2 separate regions of the Homo sapiens genome follow, and region 2 is linked to region 1. The links come from fine-mapping of genetic effects on plasma protein levels. A gene starts in region 1. The other region holds a variant in brackets. All regions are shown on one strand. Distances are from middle to middle. Region 1 holds the start of PLXNA4 (plexin A4). Region 2 overlaps PLXNA4 (plexin A4).

Evidence for each region. PIP is the chance, under the fine-mapping model, that this variant and not a neighbour inherited with it causes the effect. The UK Biobank Pharma Proteomics Project read protein levels with antibody pairs (Olink). The fine-mapping took linkage between variants from a reference panel, not from the people measured, so its PIPs are less certain.
Region 2: its variant is fine-mapped to the plasma level of the PLXNA4 protein (UK Biobank, PIP above 0.99).

What each region holds. Positions count from the first base shown.
Region 1 is chr7:132,572,417-132,582,156 of GRCh38, reverse strand. PLXNA4 (plexin A4) reads left to right here and starts at 5,687. Exons shown (of 32, transcript NM_020911.2): 1 at 5,687-5,735. RefSeq lists a silencer at 1,185-1,354 and enhancers at 5,248-6,225, 6,226-7,203.
Region 2 is chr7:132,548,804-132,558,543 of GRCh38, reverse strand. All of the region lies in intron 1 of PLXNA4 (plexin A4), which reads left to right. Among named protein-coding and RNA genes, the nearest start is that of PLXNA4, 23 kb to the left of the region's middle. The variant C/A (reference allele first, on the strand shown) is at 5,292.

The DNA.
Region 1 (9,740 bases):
AGACGTGAATTGTATCCAGTCCTTGTAATGCAGGCATACTACGGGACCTTGTGCCTCCCAGGACTTAACCCCAAGAAGGGTTACACTGAGGTATTTCTCCTTTCTTGTTGTAGCAAGACATGGCTCTGGCCAGATCTGGGACTCTCTTCTTTCTGGCCAATGGAGTTAAGTCACACCCCCTCCCTCCCTCCATCTCCCCTTACCTCACAATATCCTCTAACTTCTGGTTTCTGCGGTTAAAAAGACAAGTTTTGTTTGTTTGTTTGTTTGTTGTTTTTGTTAGTTGAAAGAGAAGGAAGCATTCTGGAGAGGGGGCAGTGGATGAAAGGGTCTGGGGAGGAAGGGGAGTAAGACTTGGACCATGGGAGGCATGGGAGTTATTTTGGTGCCCAGAGGATCAAGATCCACAGTGTGTGTGTGTGTGTGTAGGAGGAGAGGGGTGTCCTCCCCACCTAAACACCAACCCCCCGGTGTGGCTTGGAAAGCCATGGCACGGCAGCAGAGCTTGCCATGTCCAGCAGTGCAGCCGGGTGGAGGTGCCCTTGCAGAGGGCAACCACAGAGCTGGCAATGCAGAGATGTCCTTCCATCAAATGGCTCATGGGCAGTGGATTTCCAAGAGGGTACTTGTGGTGAATGAAATGGTCAGACTTGTTCCTAAGCACACCCACCAGTGGCGGTCTCTGACATAATGGGAGGAGACAGGGAGGGGTTTTTCAGTGGTGGCCAAAGTTTTATCTGAGCAGAAAAGGCTGGGAGTTGAAATTCGGATGTTAATATCTCTGTGCTGATTTGCACCCACATGCTAGGGAAGCCTGGAACAGTTGGGTCTACTGAGAATACCCAGCCACCAAGTTCAACTTACTAGTAGGCCCTGTGGTGACACAAGGATGTTCCTCCCCTCATCTTCCTTGAAAGGCAGTCACTTCTCCTTTCTGTTTTACTGTTCCATGGTCCAGTCTTGAAGACAGAACCCTTGGCTTAGAGGTCCACTTAGTCCCTTAGGAGACAGATGGAAGAATAAGTTAGTTTGAATGGACTGAGAATCTTGAGAGCTGCTGCCCATCCCTCGAAATGGCAGCATTCAAGGAGGATGCAGATTAAAGGCTGCTGGAGTGTGCTGTGGACATGTGGTGACACATGCAGAAAGCAGGGGCCAGAGGGCACCCTGGCCTCACCTGTGTCACTGCGGAAGGCTCCTCTTGCCTCCTCTGCTGAGCTGTGGGATACTGATGATATTCCTGCTGTCCTGCAGGTGGCGCCACAATTTAGGTTTTTAAGCTGCTGACTGCCTGCCTGTGGTTTTTCTATCCAGTGCAAGGTACAAGACCCAGCCATGGGGGCAGCTCTTGGGGGAAAGAAAATGTCTCTCTAGCACCACCAGGCTCTGGTGATTTATTTAACGAGCAAATCTGGCTTTTATCAACTTAAATAGCAGCACTGTTCCTAGGCTAATAAAATGGTGGTAGCTAAGTGAGGGGAAACTTAAGAGTTTCTTCTCCTCTTTCCTATTAAACTGGTCCTTTTATTCAGCTGTGGGAGATGAACCAATACTTTTTCTGTCTAAACCCAGCAATAAACCCCAACCCAAGTCCCACAGACATAGCTTCTTTAGAAAACAGGACTCTCTGAAGCAATGTGCCATTTAGCTTCTCCCTCTTGTGGCCATGGGTCCAGACAATGACATAACCAGTTTCACGACCAGGCAAGAGGTAGAGGGAGTGACTCACAGAGCCATTGTCAGTAGGGGACACCTAGATGGTCCTACTTGTGTCTCCCTTAGCCCTCACCAAGGGAGAGGGGGTAGAGGAGGTGTGAGAGCCAGAAGATCTTGTACCTAATGCAGAAACACATTTTGAACTGTGGTAAGATGCTGCTTTTGCCTGTGTATTTATTCTTGGGGTGGGGACAAGATAGCAGAAGGCCTACCCTCATTGTATCATTCTATTTGAAAAAAATAAAAAGATACATTCATCTGGAAAGCGACTCTAATTCCCTACATGTGTTTTGTACCTACCTTAGAGTTTCAAAGCACATTAATAAGATGGTATGTCCTTTGAATGTCATTGCAACTCTAAGGGGCGAATGTGTCAGGTGAGAGATGAGGTATCATTGAGAGGACGTGACCCGCTCCAAATTGTAAAGCTGGCCAATGACAGAGCCAGGAGTAGGACATGTGTTTTCTAACTTCCAATGTAGAGGCCCTACTCATCCCACCCCATTCCATTCTCCTAACTTAAGGGAGTCAATCCAATGGGTCATCACTGAAAAAAAAAAATCCTCTACTGCAGCTAATTTGACCCTTTCTACTCCTCCTTCCGATAATATGATAACTGCCCCCTTTGGTATGCCTTTTACCGTGTTATTCAGTGGAAGGCAACCGGGGAAAGGCAATTTGAGATATGGCCCCTGGCCCCATTAACAACGGGAGAGCTCGCTGGGCCCCTCACCTGCCCGTGGCTGGTCCAGCTTTTTGCTGTGTGTCTTCCCTGTCATTTGGCTCTGTTATTACTCTTCAGGCACCACATGGCATTCATTTCTTTGAATGAAAATAAATGACACCACACACTAGGCAGGAGATAAAGAATAATAAACACATTTTATTTGCCACCTCTGGAAAAAAAAAAAAAAAAAGGTCTTTGACTTCCCGTCCATCCATCAGGAAATGGGCCTGGAACTCAAGCCATATTCACACACACACGCACACACACACACACACGCACACACACACAAATACAACCGATATGAGGAGGAAAAAGACAATCAGATTGTATTAAAAATACATGCTAGAATGACTGAGAATTGAGACAGAGTTGTTTTCTCACCTTCCCCCCTTCCTTTCAGCATTTTATGACATACCCTGAAAGCTGAGTGGCCAACAGAAGTTTGAAAGGAGTCTCCCCCGCGCCTTTAATTGAACGATATTCCTTAAGTAACCCATTAGGGACTTTCATGGGGCTATCCGGGCTGTCACTTCTGGAAATGGGCCGTGATGGACCCATGCAGCAATTTTAAAAGGGACACCTAGAAGCAGTGTCAGGATCAGGTGATGCAAACCTTACATGGACCTTGGGGTGACAGGGCCTCCTTGGATTTTGTATCCTCAGTGCCCGGCTGGCCTTGTGCTAATCCCAGTCTTGCAGAGAGAGGCATTTGGCCCTGGGCTTCCTCCACCCTGGAAGGATGTTCAAGAGGCAGTAGCATTGAGTGATTTTGTTATGTGTGTCTCTGGACTTCTGAAACTAACCTGATATTGTGTGCTTTATCTAGAGTCTGGGATTCAGGGTTTCTGGGAAGAGTGGAGTCAGATCAATGTATTCATGTAAGCTTAATAAGATAACTCCTTGCTGCTTTCTGGGCCATGCAAGACTCAGCAGAGAACCAGAGACTAAAAGGGCTCCACGCTGTCTCCTGGAATATCCTTTAACCAAAGAATCAAACATGTGGTTTCCTCCTCATTCTGGCTTGGTTCATCTTCTCATTGGTGAGAGCAAAGTTTCAGCAGGGTCCTCTCTGGGTGGGCCAAGCCTGACCTATATGTGCCGCTCACCTTGGGGCTTGTTTAAGCTGTCATCTCACAGCTCCTTTCAAAGGCTCCCCAATTCACACAACTTCGATTTCTGTGAGAATATAACCCCTATAGGGAGGTATAGGCATTTAAGCCATTATCAGTCATGTCCACCTAATAAGGAGGCTCTGAGATGTTTCGATGGGAGGGACAGTAATGGGCGGGAGTTTCTGGGTGTGAGGACAGTGAAAACTAAAGAAGGGACAGGAGAGAGGAGGCCAAGAGCCATGGGCTCCTTTAGAGGGTCGTCCTTGCTGGTTGCCTATCCCAGGGAATGCTTACTGGACTCTGCTGAAGGTGCCACTTCCCTCAGACTATGGTGGGAGCGGGTATGAGGATGAGGGTGGCATGCACAGAGTTGAGTTAACAGGTGTGGGAATCCCTTCGGTTTCTCTTGGTGGGTGGGCCCATTCCTAGGGGGATCTAGGCAGAGGTTTGGGAGGTAGTGCCACCCACTCCCCATCTTCACTGCCTAAACCAGAGCTACATGGTGATTTCTTTCTTTGGGCTTCAGAAACCACCCTGATGTTGGCATGGTCTGTTCTGGATGTAGTCTAGGATCTAGGGTTTCAGAGAAGAGAGGAGCCAGGAGAGCCGCTCAGTATAAACATGAATGGAAAAGTCAGGTTACCAAGCCAGCTCTGGGGCACTGGCCACTCATGTTCTCTCGTGCGGGCCTTGTGCCCTCAGTGTCCTCGGCCTCCTTGGGTGCCATGTGGGGGTGACTTGGTGGGGTGTTGGGAGGGGTTCTGACTAGCAATGGGTGTATGCCTCAGAGTCAGTGTGCGCTTGTGTCAGCTCTGAGCACCTGAGGGTCCCTCCGACGGCCAGCGCCCAGAGCTGCAAATTCCGAGGCGGCTGAGCGCCTCCCTCTGAGCGCGCGCCGTGCGCTCCGGTCACCCATGTATGCCCCTCTCTCCGCCCCACATCGCCACCGCCAGGGTAGCTCCGTGCGGGCCGAGGGGACCCAGGGGGGTGTCGGCAAACGTTGGTGCGGAGGAGAGCCGGCAAGCCGGGCGGCGGCGGGTGGGAGCATGTAGGGAGGCGCCCCCTGCCCCCTCTGCCGGCCGCTCTCCCTCGCTCTAGATGTCAGCCGCGAGCTCCGAGCCAGCGAGAGCGAGCCAGAGAGGGAGCGGCGGCGGGCGGCGGGCGGCAGGGAGGAGAGGAGGCGAGGCGAGGGAGGGAGGAAGGGAAGCAGGGAGGGCGGGAGGGAGGAGAGGAGGACCCAGAGAGCGCCAGGCAGCTGGAGTTTTTGCAGCGCTTGGCCGGGCTTCAATGCACAGCAGCAGCGAGCCGCGGCGGCAGCAGGCAGCCCGGGAGCTCCGGCGGCGGCCGAGCCAGCGGCGGCCCCGCTCCCTGCCCCCTGCAAACTTTGCGAGCAGCCCGCCCGGGGGGCCGGGGGCGCGCCCGGGAGGCCCGGCTCGGCCCGCGGCCGAGCTCTCCGCCGCCGCAGCGCCAGCCGCCGCAGCCACCACCGCCGCAGCCCCGCGCCTCCCCGGGGAGCAGCCGGCGGCTCCCGCGGCCCCCCAGCCCCGGCCCCAGGGCACTGCCCGGCGAGTGTCTCGGCAAGGGTGGGGGCTGCCGCGGCGCGGCCGGCCGCGGGCTGCCGGGGGGCGGCCGCCGCTACCCAGAGAGGCGCGCAGAGGCGCCGAGAGCGCTCCCCGGCGGGTCCCCCGCGCACTCGCCGCGCCCGGGCAGCGGCCCGACCGGGCGAGCATGGGCGGCGCGGAGTGACGCCGCTGTGCCCGCTTGGCATCAAGGACATTCAGCCCGCGGGGGTGGGGACGAAGGGGGGCAGCCCGGCGTCGCCACCGCAGCCCCCGAGAGCCGCCGCCGCTGCTCGGGCTCCGGGGCTGGGTGGAGGAAAGGGGTGTTCGGAATCGATCCCCATTTTCCGACCTTTTTGTTGGACATTACGCCCACCTTGGACGCCGCAAGAGAAGCTGTCAAGCCCCGCAGGCTCTGATTCGGCGCCCTCCGCGTTCCTCGGCTGCTCCCGGCTTCCCTGTGCCTCGGTGGAGTATTTGCGTTCGGGGCTGGGGCTGGAGGAGGCAGCCACACGCGCGCACACGCACACGTTCAGAGGAGGGCGAGAGGCAGCGGCATAGGCTCCATCTGCAGTGTCAATGCGGCGCTCCCGCTGAAGGAGGGAAACGCGGCGCGTCCAGGTAAGGAGCCGGCCCGCCGGGGAGTGGGGCCGGGCGGGCGGCGAGGGCAGCAAGGTCGGACAGACCTGGGCCGACCCGGGAGTCCTCAGTGTCCCGGAGCCAGCCCGCGGCACACGCACACGCACACACGCAGGCACACACACAGATCCACACCGGCACACACGGCGCTCGCGCACCTGCCCACGTCCCACCTGGACGCCCGCGGAGGTGCAGCGGCCGGAGCAGGGATTTCCCGGGTGTGTTCTCCTCTCACGCTCCTGGACTCAGACTTCTCTTTCCCGGGACTTTCGGGGTGGGATTCTGTGTATTCCCGGCTCTGCCTCCCACCCGGGGAGGTTGAGGGAGCAATTTTTCAGCTCCCAGCCCCTTTCGTCCCTAGCTGGGCTTTAAAATGGGAGAAGTCCTGAGAGGTTTCCGGAGACCTACCCAGTGTCATCGCGGCCCCGTGGCCTTTGGACACCCTGGGATTTCAACGGGAGACAGACCCACAGATATTCGGACGCATATTTGGAGAGAGTGGTGGCCCAGCGCCCGGGGAGGAGGCCAGATAGGCGGTTGGGGCTGCAGTTCTGTAGGGCGGCGCATATGAAACAGACACTGCGTTTCCCCAGTAAGAGGCAGCACAAACGCCTTTCTGAAGCGTGGCACTGCTTCCCCGGGAATGCGCCGAGATTTCAGGCAGAAAGCGGCTTAAAGCATCGCCGCGTATGTTGCTTGTCTAGGGAAGGTACGGGGGTCAGATCCTCCTTAAAAGGTAAGACCTTATTCACAGCCTCAGTGCCTGCTTAGCAGCAAGCAGACAGGACTTGGAGACACAGGACTTGGGTCCCCTCTCACCTCCCTACCCTCCCTGGGCACATGGGGCTGCCTTCCCCGGTGCCTCCGGCTGGCGAACACCTGTCACATGCCTTTCGTGGTGTGTGTCTGAGAAAGAGAACTAGAAGGGGGAAGCACGAGGGATATAGTCCTCCAAAAGAGGAGGCTCCCCTCCCTCACGACCGTGGCGGCACTGCCCACCGGAGAAGGCAAGGCATTCGTGGGTCTGCCAGCGTCCCCCAGAGCCCAAGCCTGCTCCGATTGTAGAATCACTCCCCAGACGCCCGTGCTTTAAGGTCCTATTTCCCGAAAGCATTTTCATTCTTGTTCTCTCTGGCTGGAATTTCACAGGCTGCTCATTTTAACTTTTTCTGGAGGAGGTAGGAAGTGGCTGGGGTTCTAAGAGGCTTTTCCATAGTTCCCTTCTTGGGGTCTAAGAGCAACTAATTTAGGGTCTCAGTTGTCATAGGGAGAAGAACATGAGATCCAAATCAAATTCGGAATTGAATATATATGTACAAGCTCCTGTGTTTCTGGTGCTGTCACTTTGAGGTAGCTTTCTAGGCAACATGATCATATCATTTTCCCACAAAACTGAATAAGCTTGTACCCTCTGTCCAAGATCATGTGTTCAGAGTATCCCACAGACCCACCAGTGGAAAAAATATGTTAGGAGCCTTACAGAACATGATGGAAGAGGAGCAAACATTCTTTTGAACAAGGAGGCCTCAGTGCTAGGCTCAGAATTTGGGTTGTTTTTGTAAATCCTGAAGATAGGGGCTGAATGAAAGGGCTTTTTCAGCACCCTGACTCCGCTATTTCCAAACTTTTTTCAGCTCCTGCAAAGGTCTCTGGCTAGGCTGGGGAGAAGCGCAGACACCCCGGGAGGGAGATTGTATTCCCGCTGTGTGCTGTGTGAGCTGCCCTTTGATTGATTGAAAAGCATAGATGGAATAAAGCAAATCTCTCACAATGGAGAGACCCCAGTAGGGGGAAGAAACCTTATTTGCTTTTTAAGAATGGTGGGCGTGTGCACACACACACCCAATATATATACACACATGCGTTCTCAGAGTCTGGCTAAATGTGGTCAGCTCCCCGCCCCCGCCATGTGTGACAATGGGGTCCACCTCTGTCTTCCGGGCTGTGGAAGAAATGGAACATTTCTCCCCACATGCCCCTTGAGGGCGTGGACAGGCAGATCCCACCTACGCGTACAGCAGCACATGGTTTGCAAAAGAAATAATGAGCTCCAGCAACAGTGGGTGCCTCCCAGGTAAACAGTCCCTCATGGGACCTGGAAGAGGCAAAGGGATAGGGTACAGGATCTTCCTGAAATGTCTGTGTCTTCCCTGTAGACCTCCACTCCTTTCTCTGCTTTCCTCCCTACCCTCTTTCCTTTCTCATGTATTCGCAGCCTCAGGATCCATCATTTTAATGCAAAGCTAGTATCATTATGCTGGTTATAAGCTAAACATCTGGGTTCAGAAAATCTCTGCACTTTCTGCACTTAGCATTAGGTACCAATTTGGTTTCTAGGACAAGGCAGGCATTAATTAACATCTCTGTAAAGCGGAGTATACATTACGTTTTCCTGGCTCTCTTGCCCAGCCCTGGAGCATGCCACGCTGTCATTCACCCTCTCTGCCACTCTTCTGTGCCCTTCCTTTTAAGTTCTCTGAGGTCTTTCTCACTGGGAAGGGAGTCACACTAGAAAAACCCCAGCCATGAATGCTTCTTTTCAGCAGACCCTCGCTGCCTGGTAGACGGTGCTTAAGGCAGCTCTCCTGTGAGCACTAGGCATGGGTCACCTACAAGCTGCTCCTTCTTACCCAATCACGCCTCCCCGGGCTCTCATCTGTCCTCCCAGGACTTCCTCCTGGATGCCCACTGGGACACTGCAGACATTTCTGGAGGACTCCAAGGCAGTCAACTTGTTTCCTTTCTCCTTCTCTGTGCCTTCCTGTCGCCTGCTGCTGCTACTCCCTGCAGACAGGGAAATCTGCACGGCAGAGTCTGCCTACATACACTTGGCCTCGGGATCCTTTTCATCACAATGAGGGCTGCTGGGAATGAAGTGGGGGCTTTCTAGGATGGCAGCAGTCCCGAAGTGGGAGAGAGCTAAAGGGGCTGGGTCATTAACCACTCTTGATTCATAGTTATCATCAGGCTTTGATGCAGAGAAATCGCTGTGGATCTCTCTCCTCCTAGCCAGCTAGGGGGCATTTCTTAGCTGCTTCTCCCCATCCTCACCTAGAGAAGGCATACGCAGACAATGCACATCAGAGACCTGTTGGAGCGGCTCTGTGGTGGGTTACAAGGGGGCGGCAGCAATACAGAAAACACGACCATGATCTTGGCTCTCATTAGACTATGCAACAGATGTGCCAGCGTCTCCTCTCTTCTTATTTGTGTCCAGTGCTACCCAATGTGAAACTGGCTCAGACCCTGGGCTATTGAGTAGGTTCATTTCCCTCCCTTGACACCTCCCTTCCTTTTCCTCCAACCCCCACTTCTCTGCCCCCACCACTTGCTAATCTACCTCTTGGCTTTGTGCGCACATCCGCCAGCCCATTCGCCCTCAAATTTGCGGCACTCCAAGAAATCAATATAACATGAATTTAACGACAGCTGGATGATTAAGTGTTATTTATATTTAAAAGCGGCATTTTAAAAAGACGTCTCACTAATAAATGGCTGTTTGGGAGATGCACATGATTAGGGTAATTGGCCTATAGGCTCTATCGAGCTATGCTTGGTCCACACAGGGCCCTGTGGACAGGACACTGTCTCTTTAAAAGCTGCAAGCTCCACTGCTCCCTCCCCAGACTCCCACCTGATCCCCTCTAGCTGCACAGACTTTTTCTTTCTTCTTTCATGTTGTCCTCACTGCCCAGGCTGTACCATTCAAGTTGCGGTAGGAAGGTGGAGCCCACAGGGAGACTGAAGGGGGCTCTGCTGCTGAGTGGTAAGAGATGGATTTTAAAACGAAAGGCAGGCAGGGGTCCTGATTCCCCTGGAACAAGAGCCCAGGCCTTGTTCCTGAAGGAGGAGGCTGCTTCCCTGCATGGCATGGAGCAGCCTGGAAGAAGAGTTTCCTGAGTCCCTATGTGAGTCTGTGTATGCCCCCACACACTTGTCCGGTCCTGTGGCATCAGCCTCCCAAAGGAAGAGGCTGTGAGGATGTTA
Region 2 (9,740 bases), 24 kb after region 1:
TTCTTGGCAAATACTTAAAAATAAACTAATTAAATAATTTTTCTAAACTGTATTTATATTTCTGGCAATCATTATTGAGTGAAATGGTATTTTATTTACATCTAGGATTTGTGGCAATGTAATAGAAGTTCTCTTGTTTTAATTTGATGATGCTCATTTTTGGAATGTTCTAAAGAGCCTTTATAAAAAAGCTTACAGAATATCACATGACCAAATATAGAAAATTTGCTTTGAAAAAATGTCATTTCTCCAGCACATACTGTTTTGAAAGAATGGCATTTTCACCTAAAACTTATATTTGAAAACTTAAAAATATTGGTAGGCATGGAACAGCATTTAACCAGGTAACAAATTTTACAAGTAGACTTAGCCACATGCCAGGTCTGGGCATTTTTGTGTGCAGACAGTAGTACACGTAGAGACTTTCTGAAAACTCAGCCTGCCAAGAATTTCCTGGTAATATATGATTTATTGGCTTGTATTTTCAGTATTTACATCTCATATTCCCACTTAATTGCAAGCTTCTTGAAAGCAGGCATTGTCTTAGACACATTTGCAGTTCCCTCTGGACCCAACATAAGGTTGTTTGATTGTCTCTCTCTCTCTCTCTCTCTCCCTACCTTAAACTTGGTTTTCTGAGCTTGAAAAGAGAAGTATTTGAATGGTAGGACAGTAGAGGGCATTACACATCCTGAAACAGCTGCGGATCTACAGGAAGTGGGAAGTAGCTTCCTGGCGAAGTCTGCAGGCAGTGATGTCCATGTCTTGGTGATTATTCTTCCATACAATTATCATTTTTCACCAGCTGATGGTAAACAGAGCACCTAATGAGTTGGTCTCTAGACCACAGACGTACCATATTGCTTGGTAGGCACAGAGGAGCTGCAGATAACATCTTTTTCAAAATGAAAACTCCATTAAACTTGGCTGACTTCCTGTTGTCTTTGGTCAAAAAGTCCAAAGGTTTTGCAAAGGTGAAAACTTTTTTTTTTTTAAAAAAAAGATAAATTAAAGGAAAATTCAAGGAAATAAAGAGATTTTTATTCAAGGGCTCCTTGGTAATTGATTGCCTATCTTTACGTCCCCCCCTGCCGCCATTTCCTCCATCTTCTGTGAAGAAAATCTTAAGTTGTAGGTTTTGATAAACTCTCCTGCCACCTCTTTTCTCTGAGCCAAACATCCTGGCTGTGCTGGCAAGTTGGGAGCCTTTGCAGGGGATGGGAACAACTCAACTTCAGTAGCACGTGATAGAGGGTTCCTTCTCTTTTAACTGCTTTGCACATTGATGGAGAGCTCATTGCTTCTCATGGTGCAGGTAGGTCTGACTCCACATCTAATTTTGTGACTGATCACAGGTGCAGGTCACCATCTGCAGGAGGTGTGGATAGCAAAGCCCAATGTCAAAATTCATTCATGTGGCAGGGTTTCTGGGCAGCCCCCATCCCACTGCTGGTTCGTAACCAGTGGGTCTCTAAGCTTCTCCCACCCTCATTATATGTGTGTCTTACACAAACTTCTGCCACCTGGTACTTTATTCATTAATATTTTTTGAAGCCTAAAATTTGAATTTATGTTTGTCACATTCAATTTCTTTTTGGGGTTCCAGTTTTGACCCTGTTTCAGGCTGCTAAGATAGTCTTAAACTTTGTTTCATCCTCATCAATGGGTTGAGTCTTACTCTACTATTAAATGACTTCTCTCATATTATCTCATTTGACCTTCACAAGTCCTGGAATCTGTCCGTTGCAAATTTGATAAATGTGACTCTCAGTCTTCATTCAACTTACGGATAAAAGTATGAAACAGCACAGCGCCAAGGACGGAACCCTTTGACATGGCATTTTCTGAAGAGCTTCCCTTTTGGGTTTGACAAATAACCATTGATTCACTTTCTTTAGGCTCCAGAAGCAGGGGAGCACCCAGGACCCAGGATAGACTTTGGAGGCAGACAGGTCTGGCACTGCAACCCAACTTAATGCCAACTTGGCCATGCCCAATGGGCAGATTATGTGGGGACTCATTTCCAGTGATTATAGGCAGGTGAGAGCTATGGGCCTTCTCCTCCACAACCTTCCTACAAAAGCAAGTTGCAGACTCAATTCTACCCTACCTACCAATATTTGTTAGTAACCAGGCACATAAATAGCCATACAGCCTGTTTTTGAAGCTCAGTGTGGATCCTGCTGTCTGCCTCAACTAGTGTGCCGGGGAAGGGTATCAAGGTTTGCTGATATAGCGGGTCACCTCAACCCTGCAGGTGGACAGCCAGAGGGCACGAGGGGCATGCAGCAGCAGAAGCTCCCTCTCTGGCCCCAGGGTGTGGTAAAAATATTATCACTTTCTGCAAGTGTCAGGAAGTGAGAAAGTTTGGGAGGCACTGACTTAGTAACTCTTACAAGTTTATTTCAAGGAAGATTTATTTGAGGCAGATGTGGCAATGTGGTTGCAGGTTTCAGCTCACCTTCTAGTGGGATTAGAGGACAGCATCCTTTGAGAGATGAAATAGACCCTAGTAGGACCCCTAGGCCAAGAATGGAGCCACAGAGGGCTCTAGGCTTGCCAGATTCTTGTGCCCAAAGGGCAGAGATGCCTGGATGGCATTTCTAACCAATTATGCATATTCGACACTGCTTAATTTCCTGCTGATAAATTGTTTCCAACATCTCTTATGTTTTTTAACAAACAGTGTAGACTCTGATGCAAGGCTTTCAAAGGCTAAGTCACCAGCCCTGGTTAGTTACAATACTTCAGATGTCGACTAACCATCCTTGGGTAAGGATTGGAACTAACTTACATTATACCACTCTGTTTAAGCTGATGCATTTTAAAGTAATTTACAGACATCATCAAGCCTTGGCTACTCAGCTGTGTGGCGTCAGCATGTTACCTGTCTTCTCTGAGGTTCAGTGTCCTTATCATTAAAAGAGTAAAATAAGGGACTGCTCTAACAATTAAGTGACATAATACGTGGGAAATAGCTTGCACACTGCTTGACACATATTAAATGCTCAATAAGTGGAGAGGTAATATTATTGAAAATTGTTGCCTGTTCTTCAGATTCCTAAAGCTTGTCAGTTCTGCTTCTTGCCACCCTGTGTTGGATTAAAACACTTCAGTTTTCTTGGTTTATAAATAGTCACATCTGTTTCTAACACTGGGCTTCAACAAGTCTACTGCCTTGAGGTTCTATAAGCAAATGGGAAGGGAAGAAGAGCAGGTGGCTGGTCCCATTGCATTAATTCTGGCTCTCTGTCAGAGTATGACCTCTTAAAAAAAGATTTAAAAATATTTGTAGGGATTCCTTTATTTTTGGAAGACTCAGAATTTTCTCAGAGTCTAGAATTAACAGCCACGTTTATATATTCAATCTGTGCTCAGATCAGCCATCCACATGTAAACATACGTTATTTTTATAGGACCTGGAGTGATATCTTAGATAATGTGGTTTTTTTGCCAGGCCATGGTGATGGTTACTGTTTTTTTTTTGTTTTTTTTTTTCCTTCAGGTTTACCACCCAAGACTCTGAATTTGGTGTAGGGAGAGCAGATAGGAGACTCTTGGCTCAAAGCAGTGGCTAACCATTAGTGAGTAATTATTGCCTGGAGCCTACCTGATAATTATGCCAAGCATTGCAGGATGGGGCATCTGCTAATGTTTGCCTGCAACGAAGTCAGAAAGCTGAAGTGGTCCATCAGAGACCAGAGAGGTGTGTTCAGTGTACATGGTGTTTGCATACTTGGATGTCCTCACTTGCCTCCAATAGGTGATATTTATGAACACTGCCCATCTCAGCTGTCTTCAGCCCCAGGCCCTGGTTTCCTGGAAAGATAGCCTTAAACTGGTGAGTAAGGGCCTCTGGGATTCTCCTGTGTAAAGCCAGCCAGCCAGTGAGAACCCTCTGCCCTGAGGCACCCTGGTTCAGAGCGTGCTCGATTCTTCCAGGCACCTTAGCTTTGAAATCAGTGAAATCTCTGCATGATGACAAACGATTAAGCTGGAAACATTGCATTATTCCCAGCAACACTCGGGCTGAGAGAGGAAAGAACCACTGGTTGACTGTGGAGAAAGGTGATTTGCCCCTGTGGAGAGGGAACAAAAGCTTGGAGACTCTGGAAACGGAGTGTGTCAGTGTATTTTGAAGGTGATGGGACATCTGTGAGCAGAGAGTCCGGCTCTGGTCTTGTGGAGGTGGTCTTTCCACCACATAGCACACCATGGGGAGATTTGCCATTGCTTCTCTGTCCCCTAAAGGAAAAGGGGCACCTCATTGTCACACTGTCCCCCCAGGGTCCTTGTCACTGCCATCCTCTACTCTTCAGCCCTTCTACAGTGACCACAGGCCCTGTGTTCACTAGAACAGCCTGTGTTTCAGATATTCTGTGCCATTGCTTGAGTGTGTGTCCTGATATTTTTGGTTTGAAAATAGTCATGTATCTATATCTATATCTATCTCCAAATGGGTATCCTTGGGCAAAATTGAGAAATAGTTGAATTTTGCCCCAAGTACTTGGGTATCTCCTCTCTATTTCTCTCTTTCTTTCTTTAGACAGGGCTTTTGGTGATATACACTGTAGTGTGTATACCTGTGAGCTGGGAGCAAATAAGGGCTGAAATTCTGCTCATGTTTTATTGGCCAAGGCTTGGTGTATCTCTTTGCTCAGGAAGAGTTGCCCTTTTCTTCCCCCAAGATGCCTTCTGTTTACCAAGTTCTGGTCAACCAGAGAGGACAGCACTCCCTAATTCTCAGCAAATAGCCATGTAGATCAGTGGGGACCCTGCTGTTTGCACCCTCTCCACTCTCTTCTGTTTATCCTTGGGCCACAGAAAAACAGAGGTGATGGAGGAGGTACACTAAGGTGTAGGTTGTTGAAAGAGAAAGCATGATGCTTGACCCAAAGAAACCATGTTCCAGTGGCAGACTTTTAGCACGTCAATGGAGGGAGTAAGATATGGACTGGTGCAGGGGTGCTTTGCTAGGACCTCTCAAACCAGATGGGAAGGTCCTATGTGTGGCCATTCTCTAGGTGCCTGTGCTTCAGATTGAGCTGGGGGACAGCTGTCTCTGGCCCCTCTTTTGCACTTAATTTTCATGTACCCTGTCAGGAAGCTCTCCCCCTGGGCTGATGACCATCACCCCTTGGCTTTTCTGATGGGTCTGGGGAACCTGGAGATCCTTCTGACTGTTATGAACCTCCTGGGGGCAAAATACCATTCGCAGTAATGTGGAAAATAGCCTAAGGGCTGCTGAGAGCTGCCTCCTGCCATGTCCCCACACTTCCTTTATGTGTGTC[C/A]TCCCTGTCATTCCAGGAAATGCTGACCTCAGGGTGAGCAGGTTGCAGGCCATGCCTGGGGCTGGCAGAAACATATCTCAGGACGCATCTGCAAGGCTTCTAGATCATCCATGTGTGGATGCCGTGCCAGAGCTAGGCATTCAGAGCAGCAGGTTTTCTGCCTGTGAGGTCCACCCAGAGATACTGGCTTTTCCAGCAACCAGAATTAGGAAGAACTTCAGTTTCATGGCATGGGAGCCCATAGCACCCCAGAATCCTGAGCCAAGCATTCTAACTGCTAACAAGCCAATCCCCTGCCTCCTGGCAGAATCACCCCTAAGAGGGCTTGTAATGGGCAGTACTGGCCCCAAGGCAAATTTTTTTTTTTGAGTTTCTTTTATCCTAACACAACTTCTACTTCAACTAGCATCACTGAGCTGGCTTTGGGGTGAGGGTCTCAGGCACCTAATTGATTTTATACAGAAAGGCATTTCTCCTGATATTAATCTTTAGGGAAATGAAAGTCCACTTTTCTTCTGTCCAGTGTTTTGTGGCCCAAAGGGGGTGTGTCTCCAGATGAAGAAAATGGAGTATCAGTGCTAATTTGAGATCCAGTGAGCAGCGGCTCGGGTAATCAGATACCACTTCAGCTGGAAACCTCACACTTGCAGAAGGACTTTTTATTCTCACCTTCCAGAGCCTTCTAGCTATGGGGTGTGCTACAGGAAATTGGGAGCTGATGAAGAAGCGGGCTGCCCCATTCCCACCCCCAGGGCTGCCTGTAGAGAATCCAGGCCCTTCATTTCCCAGTGCCTAGCATCTTGGGGCAAAGGTACTTCCAGCTACTGCTTGTGAACCAGAATTTTTGAAGGGGGGTAAGAGTAACAAAGAGCCCCAAACAAATAACTCCCCCTGTGACTTCTTTTTGACCAAGTGTTTGCTGAGAACTAAATCAACTCTCGTAAGTGTGTTCTTTCTTAGTGTTTTAAAACAAGGTCTAGGAGTCAGGGCTTTAGCACTGAGGTTCTGGGTAACTCTGCCAGCTGTGATCCTGGACACCATCTCTGAATGGCTTTTCCTGCCCCAATTAATGTCTTCCTTGCTCATCACATTAACTCTCACCGGGAGCTTTCCTGTCAAAGGAAGGAGGCGGAGCAAGCACTTAGCTTTCCATCTACTGTCAACTTCGGCTGCATCTTGGCTGCATGTGCAGCATTGATTTTACATGTCCCTCCTCAGCAAACCTGCTAATAAGATTCTTTTCCCTCCTCTCCTTCCCCCCACCCCCTTCAACCTGGCCCTGACTCCTGGTCAGACCTTGATTACATGTCTCATTGATTCCATTCAGCTATTTATTAATACACTAATTAGTATGTTCATTTAAAGGAGAGTGACACCGCTTTTTAAAAATAGATGTACAGAGGTGTAGGTTAATGGAAATCTCTGTTTATTTAACATCGATGTCTGGTGTGAAGAGGATTAGTTTTGGATGTTAAAAGGACACAGAGGTTTTTCCGGGGCTTAAATCACTTTAGCTGACAGTCACTAACACCCTTTGAAAGGTGACACCTAGAATCATATTTCATTTTCCTTCAGTGATCATAGACACTGCAATATTGGGGTGGGGAAACTAGAGGGCAATTGAGAGAGTACAGTACAGGGCTGGTGGTATTACGTCTTTTGCAGAGAGCTCTGATTGTGTATGGGGACTGGCTGGCCCTTGCAGCCTCCAGCGAGGTATACTCACTACTCTGGCTGTAGGACACGACCGGCATTTTGTAATGAAAGGTTTGTGAATGGAAAAGCATTGCTTTTCTATTATAGGTTTGTTCTTTTTGTTCTTGAGTTGCTCACTATTAATCATGGCTGGTTAATTCTGTAACAAACCACCACAGTTCAATATGGGTTAGTATGTGGGGGGATTTTGCTCCATACAGTCATTCAGGAGCCCAGGTTCCTTCCATGTTGTGGCTCCACCATCCTGTTAAGGGCTTCTCAATTTCCCACTGGCTCTTCTGTATCTGGTCAAGAGAGAAGGGAAGAGAAAATGTGTGAAGAAAGCTGCTGAGTGCTCTGGGGACCTGGGTGTGCACCTAAGCTCGCTGTCTCCAAGTTCGGCATGCCAGGACTGCACTTTGAGTGTTGGGGAATTGTCAGGAGGCTGCTGCTGTGGTCCAAGGGAGAAATGATGAGGACTGGGCCTGAGGTACTAAGTGGAAGGGAAGGCAGAGGCCCAGAAGTGGGTCTTGGTGAGAATTAGATGAGGCAGCTGAGGGGCACGGAGGACCGAGTGGGTGCTTGTGCTCTAGCAAAGGGAGAGAATGCAGGAGAAGGAAGAGGTGGGGCTTGTTTTTGAGGAGCTGGGTTTGAAGTGTCTATGGGACAGCATGGAGATATACTGGGTGTGTGAGTGGCCAGGAGGTCAGGGAGAGACCAGGATTAAGGTCTGCACTGCAATAAGTCCCAAATTGGATGAGGGACTATAGGTGCAGATGTGGTCATTGCAGCCCAGTGGGGTAGGAGGACTATTAGGGTCATCAGCAGCAGAGGAGCTGGACTCTTCCTTTCCTCCTCCCGCTGAGTCTGTCAGACAGAAGCCTTGAGGGAGGGGAGGACAGGGGAGGTTAATTGTGTATAGCAGACCTTGGTGCCTTGCAAATACAAAATAAAGTCATATTTTGGTTAAAACTCAAATTATGCTGATTTTTTAAATTAGCTGAGCTGTGCTCAGATCCTCTTTAAGTGTCTACTAATTGCCTCCTGCAGCTGAAGAAATGCTGACCCCTCCCTCTCATTGCTATTCTCCCTGTTAATCCTAGCCTGGAAGAGGTCCTTCCCCAGATTCCTTCCAGCACAAAGAGATCAGGCTGTATGTCTGAATACAACTTTTTTTGATGGATCAAGGGTAATAAAGGAAACACAGAGAGTAACTTAACACTTCTTCAAAAGGTAGCCACTGTAGGCATCTCCAGGCTTAGACCTGTCCTCACTTGTGGGTGCCTCATGCCCCACTCCTGGGCATCCTGCTCCCTAGAGGAAGGGCAGGCTCACCACCATGCTGTGGGGGTCAGGGGTACTCTGAGTTGCAATGAAGACCCACATTCCAGCCTTCATTGTCTTCCTAGGGAACGTTCACTTCCTTCAGGGTAAACCTTACCCTTGGGCAGCAGGTGGGGTATAGCCCTAGCCTTATAGAACCCACAGAACAGCCACAGCAGAACAAGGTTCCAACCCCAAAGTCTGGGTTGGTGCTCCAAACTGCAACTGGATCCTGGGCTCAGCCTCCACCTTCTTGTAAAGTGAGGATCTCACCCACCTGTGCTGTCTTCTTCTGCCTAATTTTCAAACTATAACTCTACCTCTCTCTACCTAATGTTCAAACTGTGGTTTGAATTATAACTTGTCTGCCCATCCACAAAAATAAGCTGAGCATTCTAAAGTCATTTTAAGAAAAAAATCCTAGCCCCCATGCTGCTCCCCAAACAAACAAACAAACAAACAACTCACCCCAAGGGAATATTAAAGATGTAGCAGTAACTTAACCCAAATAGCAATTGTCATGACTGCTGAGGAATCCTCCCTGCATTTGATGTACTTTGCCATTTTCCAGAACACTAAGGAGGGTAATGACTCAGGGAAATGACCCTCCCAGAAGCACGGAAATCTGCCCCCAGGAAGATTTTAGGGTCCACTCACTTTTAAGGTTTTTCCTGCATTGATGGTTCCAGCTTTCAAAAATCTTGGGAGGGCCCAAATGTGTCAGCATCACCAGGGTTGGGACCCAGGATTTTTTTTAAGTTCCCTAGGTGATTCTCATGAGTAGCCAAGTTTGGAATCACTTCCAATGTCTGAACTAAGTGGTTCAGTTCCTACCAAGACACCTCAAGGGTGTGAGTAGTTAATAAATATTTTGTACGAGGGGAAATTAGGTTCCCTGGGATTCCTGTTTTCTTAGGTGGGATGATGATAGGGGCCTTACCAGAAAAGCATCCTGATCCAGACCCCAACAGAGTTTTCTTGGACCTCACACAAGAAAAGAATTCAGGGCAAGTCCATAAAGTAAAGCAAACGCAAGTTTATTAAGAAAGTAAAGGAGTAAAAAAATGGCTACTCCATAGGCAGAGCAGCAGGATGAGCTGCTTGATGGAGTATACTTACAGTTGTTTCTGGATTATATGCTAAACGAGGGGTGGATTATTCATGAGATTTCCAGAAAAGGGGCAGAGATTTCCCAGAACTGAGGGTTCCTCCATTTTTTAGACCATATAGGGAAACTTGTGGATGTTGCCATGGCATTTGTAAACTGTCATGGTGCTGGCCTGAGTGTCTTTTACCATGATACTGTATTATAATTAGCATATAATGAGCAGTGGGGACGACCCGAGGTCACTTTCATCACCGTCTTGGTTTTGGTGAGTTTTGGCCAGCTTCTTCACCACATCCTGTTTTATCAGCAAGGTCTTTATGACC